2 separate regions of the Homo sapiens genome follow, and region 1 is reported to be linked to region 2. The links are microRNA targets in miRTarBase. Many come from high-throughput screens and were not tested one by one. Region 2 holds a microRNA gene; the other region holds the end of a gene's coding sequence. Distances are between the middles of the regions.
The links. The annotated mature microRNA hsa-miR-6796-5p reads UUGUGGGGUUGGAGAGCUGGCUG and lies in region 2 at 2,546-2,568, shown strand. An mRNA with a match to its seed (bases 2 to 7 or 8) in the 3' UTR can be bound and repressed. Matches are read on the target gene's strand: a 7mer-m8 pairs with bases 2 to 8, a 7mer-A1 pairs with bases 2 to 7 and ends in A, and an 8mer does both.

Region 1 (4,387 bases), 31 Mb from region 2:
GTTACAAAAACAGTAGGGTTTTCATGTACCCTTCACCCAAACTTCCCTAATATTAGCGTCTTAAATAAACAATAGAACAGAATTCTCAACCAGTAGCGATTTTGTTTCCCAAGGGACATTTGGCAACATCTTGATACATTTTTGGTTGTTACAACACCTTCAGACATTTTGGAACAGGAGATACTACTGGCTACTGGCATTTAGTATTAGATGCCAAGGATGCTGCTAACATCCTTCAAGGCACAGCCCCCACCAAAAGAATTATCCAATCCAAGGGCTGAGTGTGGTGGCTCACACCTGTAATCCAGGGCTTTGGGAGCCCAAGGCAGGAGGATCGCTTGAGCCCAGAGTTGGGGACCAGCCTGGGCAACATGGCAAGACCCTATCTCTACAAAAATAATTCACTGGGTGTGGTGGCACGTGCCTGTAATCCCAGCTACTTGGGAGGCTGAGGTGGGAGGATCTCTTGAGTCTAGGAGTTAAGAGGCTGCAATTAGCCATAATCTTGCCACAGCACTCTAGCCTGGGTGACAGAGGGAGACTCTGTCTCAAAAAATAAATAAATAAATAAAAATAAAAGGCTGGGTGCGGTGGCTCACGCCTGTAATCCCACCACTTTGGGAGGCCAAGGTGGGTGGATCAAGAGGTCAGGAGTTCAAGACCAGCCTGGCCAAGATGGTGAAAACCCATCTCTACTAAAAATACGAAAATTAGGTGTGGTGGCGGGCGCATGTAATCCCAGCTACTCGGGAGGCTGAGGCGGAGAATTGCTTGAACCCCTGGAGTGGAGCTTTCAGTGAGCCAAGATCGTGCCACTGCACTCCAGCCTGTCTCAAAAAAAAAAAAAAAAAAAAAAAATCCAACCCAAAAAAGTCAACAATGCCAAAGCTTAGAAACCCTGCTATAATATAATTATCAACACTAAGAAACCAATATCAATATAATACTATTAACTAAACCACAAATTCCCCCCAATCCTGTTTTCCCACTAGTGTTTTTATGTTCCAGGATGGGTGCTCACTGTTCCTGGAGTGTCACTGTTTCTGGTCCCTCTAAGTGGATAGAGCAAGGAAATATACATATGTATACACACATCTATATGTATCAATATATCTGTTAAACGAAAACCATGAATTCAGACTGATGCCTCCAAATCCAGTCCTACAAGGTTCATTTTAAGCATTCCCATCTCCTGTTTTATTTGTAACTTCCTTCTCCACAGTGAGACACCCAGCTCTCATTATCTACAAGTTTACTTATTTGTTCAACCCTGTTTGTGTGTATTACATGGGCCCATGTGCCCACACCCACACACACAAAAGTAGTTTCAAAATTGCTAAATCATGGCTGGCCCAACGGCTCACACCTATAATCCCAGCACCTTGGGAGGCTGAGGCGGGCGGATCACTTGAGCTCAGGTGTTTGAGACCAGCCTGGCCAACATGGTGAAACCTTGTCTCTGCTGGAAATACAAAAAATTAGCCAGGTGTGGTGGCTCGTGCCTGTAGTCCCAGCTACTTGGGAGGCTGAGGCAGGAGAATCGCTTGAACCCGGGAGGCAGAGGTTGCAGTGAGCCGAGATTGCACCATTGCACTCTAGCCTGGGCAAAAAGAGCAAAACTCCATCTCAAAAAATAATAATAAAAAATAATAATTAAAAAAAAGCACAGAAAAGCAAACTATGGAATGTCATATAAATATTACGGGACATATAATTATCCCCGTATGATAAAAACTCTAGGTTATTCCAGAAAGTTTCTAGAGTCACTCAAATGTATTAATGCCCACCACTGGTGGGAGGAGTGGTATAAGAAATAAGAAATTCAGGGCCGGGCGCAGTGGCTGACACCTGTAATCCCAGCAATTTGGGAAGCTGAGGTGAACGGATCATGAAGTCAGGAAATCAAGACCATCATGGGTAACATGGTGAAACCCTGTCTCTACTAAAAAAAATTAGCTGGGTGTGGTGGCATGCACCTGTAATTCCAGCTACTCAGGAGGCTGAGGCAAAAAAATCACATGAACCCAGGAGGCGGGGTTTACAGTGAGCTGAGATCATGCCATTGCACTCCAGCCTGGGCAACAAGTGTGAAACTCCATCTCAAAAAAAAAATTTTTTTAATTTAAAAAATAAAACAGGACAGGAGCAAGGTTGACACAAAGAACTGTGGCCAGGGGAACAGAGGGACAGTTGGTCTCCTGTCTACTCACACCTAGAGGAAGAATACAGCAAATAACATTATGTGCCAGGCATCCTGCTATTCTAATTGCGTGGTCTCATTGAGATGTGGGTGCCACTGTAGTGCTCATTTTTAGAGGATGAAACTGAGGGTCGCAGAGGCTGAAATCCCACTGCTAAGGATCAATCAAAATTCAAATCTAGTCGGTCTGACTCTTGAGGCTGGGATCATGTAGCCACACTTATAGTGCCACACTGCCTCACTGTCTACTATCACGTTTTGTCTTGAAAAGAAGTGCTAGGGCCAGGCATGATGGCTTGTGCCTATAATCTCAGTACTTTGGGAGGCCAAGGCTGGAGGATCACCTGAGGTCAGGAGTTCAAGACTATTTTGGGCAACATAGGGGAGACCCTGTCTGTACAAAAAATTTCAAAATGCCAGACGCGGTGGCTCACGCCTGTAATCCCAGCACTTTGGGAGGCCGAGGAGGGTGGACCACTTGAGGTCAGCAGTTTGAGACCAGCCTGGCCAACATGGTGAAACCCCATCTCTACTAAAAATACAAAAATTAACTGGTGTCATGGGGCACGCCTGTAGTCCCAGTCTCCTGCCTCAGGTGAGGCAGGAGAATTGCTTGAACCCAGGAGGCAGAGGTTGCAGTGAGCTGAGATCGTGCCACTGCACTCCAGCCTGGGTGACAGAGCGAGACTCTGTCTCAAATAAAATAAATAATAATAATAATTTTAAAATTAGCTGGCGTGGTGGTACACACTGCCCAGCTACTTGGGAGGCTGATGCAGGAGGACTGTGTTGAGTCCAGTTCAGGGCTGCAGTGGGCTATGAACATACCACTGCATTCCAGCCTGGGTGACAGAGCAAGATCCTGTCTCAAAAAAAGAAAAAAAAAAAATGCCAGGAACTGTGGATGTTTAAACATGCTTTAAACTCATTTATACCTCCTCACAATATGCCGATTGAAAGCAGACATGAAGTAAACGCAATTATTTCCAGTGGATAAGGAAGTAAAGGCTTACAGAGGTTAAAAAATTTTGCCTAGTGTCACTCAGCTGCTTGGTGGCAGAGCTGACATTCCACACATGGTCTGTGTGATTTCAGAATCTGAATTCCTAACAATTACATCTACTGTCATTAGCCGGAGGTTCTTTGGTTTATTAGGGTGACAATAATCCCAGAGTCTCTTGACCTTCAGACACCCACAGCAAACCCCAGAGCTCTCTCTGGGCTCCCACACAGACTCCCAGCCTGCTGGTCTACTCTGCCCTCATGGATCCAGTTGATCAGAGCTCTTATTTTAGCAGCTGCATGCTGATGGTGCAGTGATGACCAAACAGCGACTGATCCACCCATCACTAGACAGCTGTCATACAGAGACAACAACAAAGCAACATCTAAGTCTTTATTAAGGTGAGTTTTTACAAACAAGCATCTATCCCAGTGTGGGGGATGAGGATGGGAGAGGAAAGCGGGGCAGGAAGATGAGGATTCTCATCTATTGATAATAAAGCTCCAGGTTCATCCCATCGTGGATTTCATCTGAAGGAAAGGTGTTAAGGAATCCTGACTCTGACTTCCGTCCCCACCCCTCTCATCCATTCACAGCCGGGTCAGGTGGCCTGAGGTCTCAGCCCAGGGCTAAGGAAGCCCATTTTGGACCAGGCCATTTTTATTTGGAGAGAACCAAAACTTTACAAAAGAATTTCTGGCTGGGTGCAGTGGCTCACACCTGTAATCCCAGCACTTTGAGAGGACGAAGCAGGTGGCTCACTTGACGTCAGGAGTTTGAGACCAGCCTGGCCAACACGATGAAACCCTGTCTCTACTAAAAATACAAAAAGTTAGCTGGGTGTGGTGGTGGGCACCTGTAATCCCAGCTACTTGGAAGGCTGAGACAGGAAAATCGCTTAAACCTGGGAGGTAGAGGCTGCAGTGAGCCAAGATTGTACCACTGCACTCCAGCCTGGGCAACAAGAGCAAAACTCCATCTCAAAAAAAAAAAAAAAAGTTTCTGTTCCTTCTAGGCCAGGCACAGTGGCTCACGGCTATAATCCCAGCACTTTGGGAGGCCGAGGCGGGAGGATCACTTGAGGCCAGGAGTTTGAGACTAGCCTGGCATACATGGTGGAACCTCATCTCTACTAAAAATACAAAAACTAGCAGGGAGTGGTGGCACACACCTGTAATCCCAGC
Region 2 (4,387 bases):
CTTGGTGGCTCACGCCTGTAATTGCAACACTTTGCGGGGCTGAGGCGGGAGGATTGCTTGAGCCCAGGAGTTCCAGACCAGCCTGGGCAATGTAGTGCGGCTCCATCTCTACTAAAAGTAAAAAAAGTAACCAGGCATACTGGTGCACACCTGTAGTCCCAGCTACTCAAGAGGTTGAGGCGGGAGGATCGCTTGAGCCCAGGGGTTCGAGGCTGCAGTGAGCTGAGATGGCGCCACTGCGCTTCCAGCCTGGGGGACAGGGCAAGACTCTGTCTCTAAAAAAAAAAAAATACAGTCTATCCAACACACCCATGGACGGACAGCTGAGCACTCACCTCCCAGCCCTTGCTCTCCGGCACCGTATGGCTGATAGCATCCCCCACCCCCCAGAGCAGTGCTGGTGGAAAGCATTCCTGAGGGCCTGGACTTCCCCAATGCCTCCACGGGGAACCCTTCCACCAGCCAGGCCTGGCTGGGCCTGCTCGCCGGTGCGCACAGCAGCCTGGACATCGCCTCCTTCTACTGGACCCTCACCAACAATGACACCCACACGCAGGAGCCCTCTGCCCAGCAGGTACCTGCAACCTTGGCCCTGGCCGGCAGCAGGGGCAGGGGGTGGGAGGCAGCGGGGGCTGTGGGGAATGAAGGGGTTTCTCCTGCAGCCCAGGAGACAGAGGGGTGTGTCTCACACAGCAGATTGGACACAGGTGTTTGCAAGCAGCTGTCGTCACGTGGCTCTCTGGACTGGGGGCGTTTGTCACGGTCATCTGTAGGCCTCTGAATGTCAGGGTGCGGGTTTGGTTACAAGGGATTATTAGGCTGGCAGATGTCACTCACCCACAAGCTGTCCTGACCCAGTCACACAAAGAAAGGGAAGAGTGGAGTAATTAACAGCCCAGCCTCAAGACAGGGGCCACCTCCCAGCTGTGTGACCCCAGGCAGGCCACCTCTTCTCTCCAGCTTCAGTTTCTTTATCTGTAAAATGGGGCCAATTTATAGCACCTGCTTCTTAGGGCTCTTGTGAGGATGAAATGGACTAATCCATGCAAATTTTAGCACAGTGCCTGGCACAGAGTCAGCCTTTGTGAGTCTGCTGTTACTATATATCCTGGTATGGTCTGCAGACAAACTTAAAGAACATAAAAGCTTCACAATTTGAAAAGGAACAGCCTACATGGATAACCTCTTCCATTGAAAAACCATGAATTTGTTCCTTCTGTTTTCTTCTCCCTACTGGCTCTTTTTGTGAGAAGTTGTCTTAAAACTTAACTAAAATTACAAGGCTCCTTAAGAACTGCCTGAAAAAAATAATTATGGCCAAGTGTGGTGATTCACACCTGTAATCCCAGCACTTTGGGAGGCCTAGACAGGAGGATCACTGGAGCCCAAGAGTTCGAGACTAGCCTGAGCAACATAGTGAGACCCGCCCCCCACCTCCCCTCAACCATCTCTACTAAAAATAAAAAAAAATTAGGAGGGTGTTGTGGTGCATGCCTGCAGTCTCAGATACTCAGGAGATGGAAGGAGGAGGATGGCTTGAGCCCAGGAGTTGGAGGCTGCAGCGAGCCGTGATCATGCCACTACACTCCAGCCCAGGCAACATAGCAAGACCCTGTCTCAAAAAAAAGAAAAAGAAAAAGTAATAATAATAATTACAAAAGTTAAAAACCAAAGCCAGGCATAGTGGTACACACCTGTGGTCCCAGCTACTTGGGAGGCTGAAGCAGGAGAATGACTTGAGCCTAGGAATTGGAGGCTGCAGTGAGCTGTGATCATGCCACTGCACTCTAGCCTGGGCAACATAGTGAAACCCTGTCTCTAAAAAAAAATTTTTTTATGTTAAAAAACCGTATGAGCTCCCACTCCCTGCTGGCTCCCTCTAAAGTGGTTTAAAACACAGATGTAGGAGGCAGATGGTCTGGGTTCAAATCCTGCTCCATAGCTGGATGTGGTGGTGCACTCCTGAGGTACTAGCTACTTGGGAGACTGAGGCAGGCGGAATGCTTGAGCCCAGGGATTGAAGATCAGCCTGGGCAACATAGCAAGTCCCTGTCTCAACAAACAAACAAACAAAAAAACAAAAACAAAATCCCACTCCACTACTGAGTTCTCTGTGGGGATTATAATTAAACCAGCCTCACTGGGTTGTGAGAATTCAGTGAGTTCGCTGAGAAGAGGCCTAGAACAGGGCCTGGCACACAGTAGGTTCCAGGGCATCCTTGACTGTTGCTGTTGTTGGCATCATCGTGCCTCACCCGATACCTTCCAGGACCCCCTGCCTGAGCCTCGCCCCCACCATACTGGGAGATGCCTGGAGGCCCTGCCTTGATGCTGAATTTTGAGAAAGTCCCTGGAGGGGCAGGAGGGGTCAGGAGGACTTGGAGGGGGATCACAGGGCAACTAATTATTAAAGCAGATAAAGATGTTTAAAACAGATAAGGAAGTCTTTTAATATTTTAATCTGTAAAGTCTTTAATCTATGCAGGCTAATGTAAAGTCTGTTTACTCCTAATCATGTCTCAAAATAACTCCACCGGGCATTACCTTGTGGGGTTGGAGAGCTGGCTGGTCCAGCCCCTCAGAAGCTCTCCCCTCCCCGCAGGGTGAGGAGGTCCTCCGGCAGCTGCAGACCCTGGCACCAAAGGGCGTGAACGTCCGCATCGCTGTGAGCAAGCCCAGCGGGCCCCAGCCACAGGCGGACCTGCAGGCTCTGCTGCAGAGCGGTGAGCTGGGGCCCAACTGGGGCTGGTCTGGGCCTGGGGGTACCCAGCCTGGCCCCTGATCTCTGCCCCTGCTGGTCACAGGTGCCCAGGTCCGCATGGTGGACATGCAGAAGCTGACCCATGGCGTCCTGCATACCAAGTTCTGGGTGGTGGACCAGACCCACTTCTACCTGGGCAGTGCCAACATGGACTGGCGTTCACTGACCCAGGTCTGTCTGCACCCTGTCTACCTTCCTTCCAGGCCACTCCCTGCCCCACAGGGCACCCAGCCTCCGACTGCATCCCTCACTCAATCCAGAGTCCTCTCCACCCATTCTCTGTAATGGCTTCCTTCTTGCCTCCTACCAGGCCTCCCTAATCCAAGCCATGCACGGTGGCTCACACCTATAATCTCAACACTTTGGGAGGCCAAGGTGGGAGGATTGCTTGAGCCCAGGAGTTGGAGACCAGCCTGGGCAACATAGTGAGACCCCATCTCTACCAAAAAAAAAAAAATAAGCCCGGTGTGGTGGCACACACCTCTGGTCCCAGCTCCTTGGGAGACTGAGGTGGGAGGATCACTTGAGCCCAGGAGTTTGAGGCTACAGTGGGTTGTATTCATGCCACTGCACTCCAGCCTGAGTGACAGAGTGAGACCCTGTTACAAAACAAAGAATCCCTAAATGGAGCCCTCTACTGCCCTCCCCCTGCTCCTGGAAGCCTGGGGCTCCCTCTGATCCCCAATTGCAGCTACCAGCCCCTCTACATGGCATTCAAGAACCTGCGCACCCATTTGATCTTCATTGTACATCTCTGTGTGCCTGCTCTAAGTCCAGCCCTATCCTGGGTAATGTTGGGAACATGGTGGTAACAGATGGACCTCATGGAACTCCCAGCCCAATGCAGACTGGCCTGTCACCTGACAGTGACAGCCCAGAGGGGTCAGGGCCGGGGTTGGGGAGACACAGGCAGAGGGTCAGGGCCAGGATGGAGGGAACAGAGGGCTGTGGAAGCTCAGAGACCCCAACCTGGGGCATTGGAGGGTTTCCCAAAGGAGGTATAACTAATCTGATCCCTGAAGGATAGGGAGGAATTAGCGCAAGATGGAACAGGAAACAGCTTGGGCAATGAGGTGAAGATAAGACAGGACAATAACTCATGAATTCATTTCCTCAACAGATAGTTCCCCTAACCTTTAATCTCAGCAATTATGCAGGGAGATGCTGTAGATATAGCTGTGACTGAGACATCCCTAGTGCCTGTCCTCCCAGCCCAATGGGAAGACCAGTTTGTCACCAGAAAGAATGAGGAGGGAATCCCAAGGGACTGTGAGAGCCCAGAGGAATGCCTGGTGCAGGCTGGGTAGTCATGGGAGGCTTCCTGAAGGAGGCAACATGTCAGCCTAGACCTAAGAATGAGTAGAAGCTAGCTCAGTGGAGGGTAGAAGCAACAGCAGATTGCAAACGTTCAGGAAACCTGGAGCTTTGGAATAACTGATTTTCATCAAAACTTAAGTTGATAATCATTCTAGGACTTTAGCTATTGGAGCTGGGGTGGAGGGGGTACTGTGGGACAGGGGGAAAGACAGAGACCAGACTGGGGAGTGTCCCTGTCATCTGTGAGCACTAGGCCGCTATCGCTGAGCTCAGCACTGCCCTCCTACAGGTCAAGGAGCTGGGCGTGGT

Region 1: the mRNA of UBL5 is a reported target of hsa-miR-6796-5p. Seed matches in the 3' UTR shown: 7mer-m8 at 3,636-3,642.

What each region holds. Positions count from the first base shown.
Region 1 is chr19:9,829,311-9,833,697 of GRCh38, reverse strand. UBL5 (ubiquitin like 5) reads right to left here. Exons shown (of 5, transcript NM_001048241.3): 5 at 3,583-3,733. The coding sequence ends at 3,690. Among named protein-coding and RNA genes, the nearest start is that of PIN1-DT, 3.5 kb to the left of the region's middle.
Region 2 is chr19:40,367,306-40,371,692 of GRCh38, forward strand. It overlaps MIR6796 (microRNA 6796), which reads left to right and starts at 2,541; the gene lies at 2,541-2,602. It overlaps PLD3 (phospholipase D family member 3), which reads left to right. Exons shown (of 13, transcript NM_012268.4): 6 at 391-574; 7 at 2,603-2,723; 8 at 2,805-2,932; 9 at 4,368-4,387. RefSeq lists a silencer at 641-806.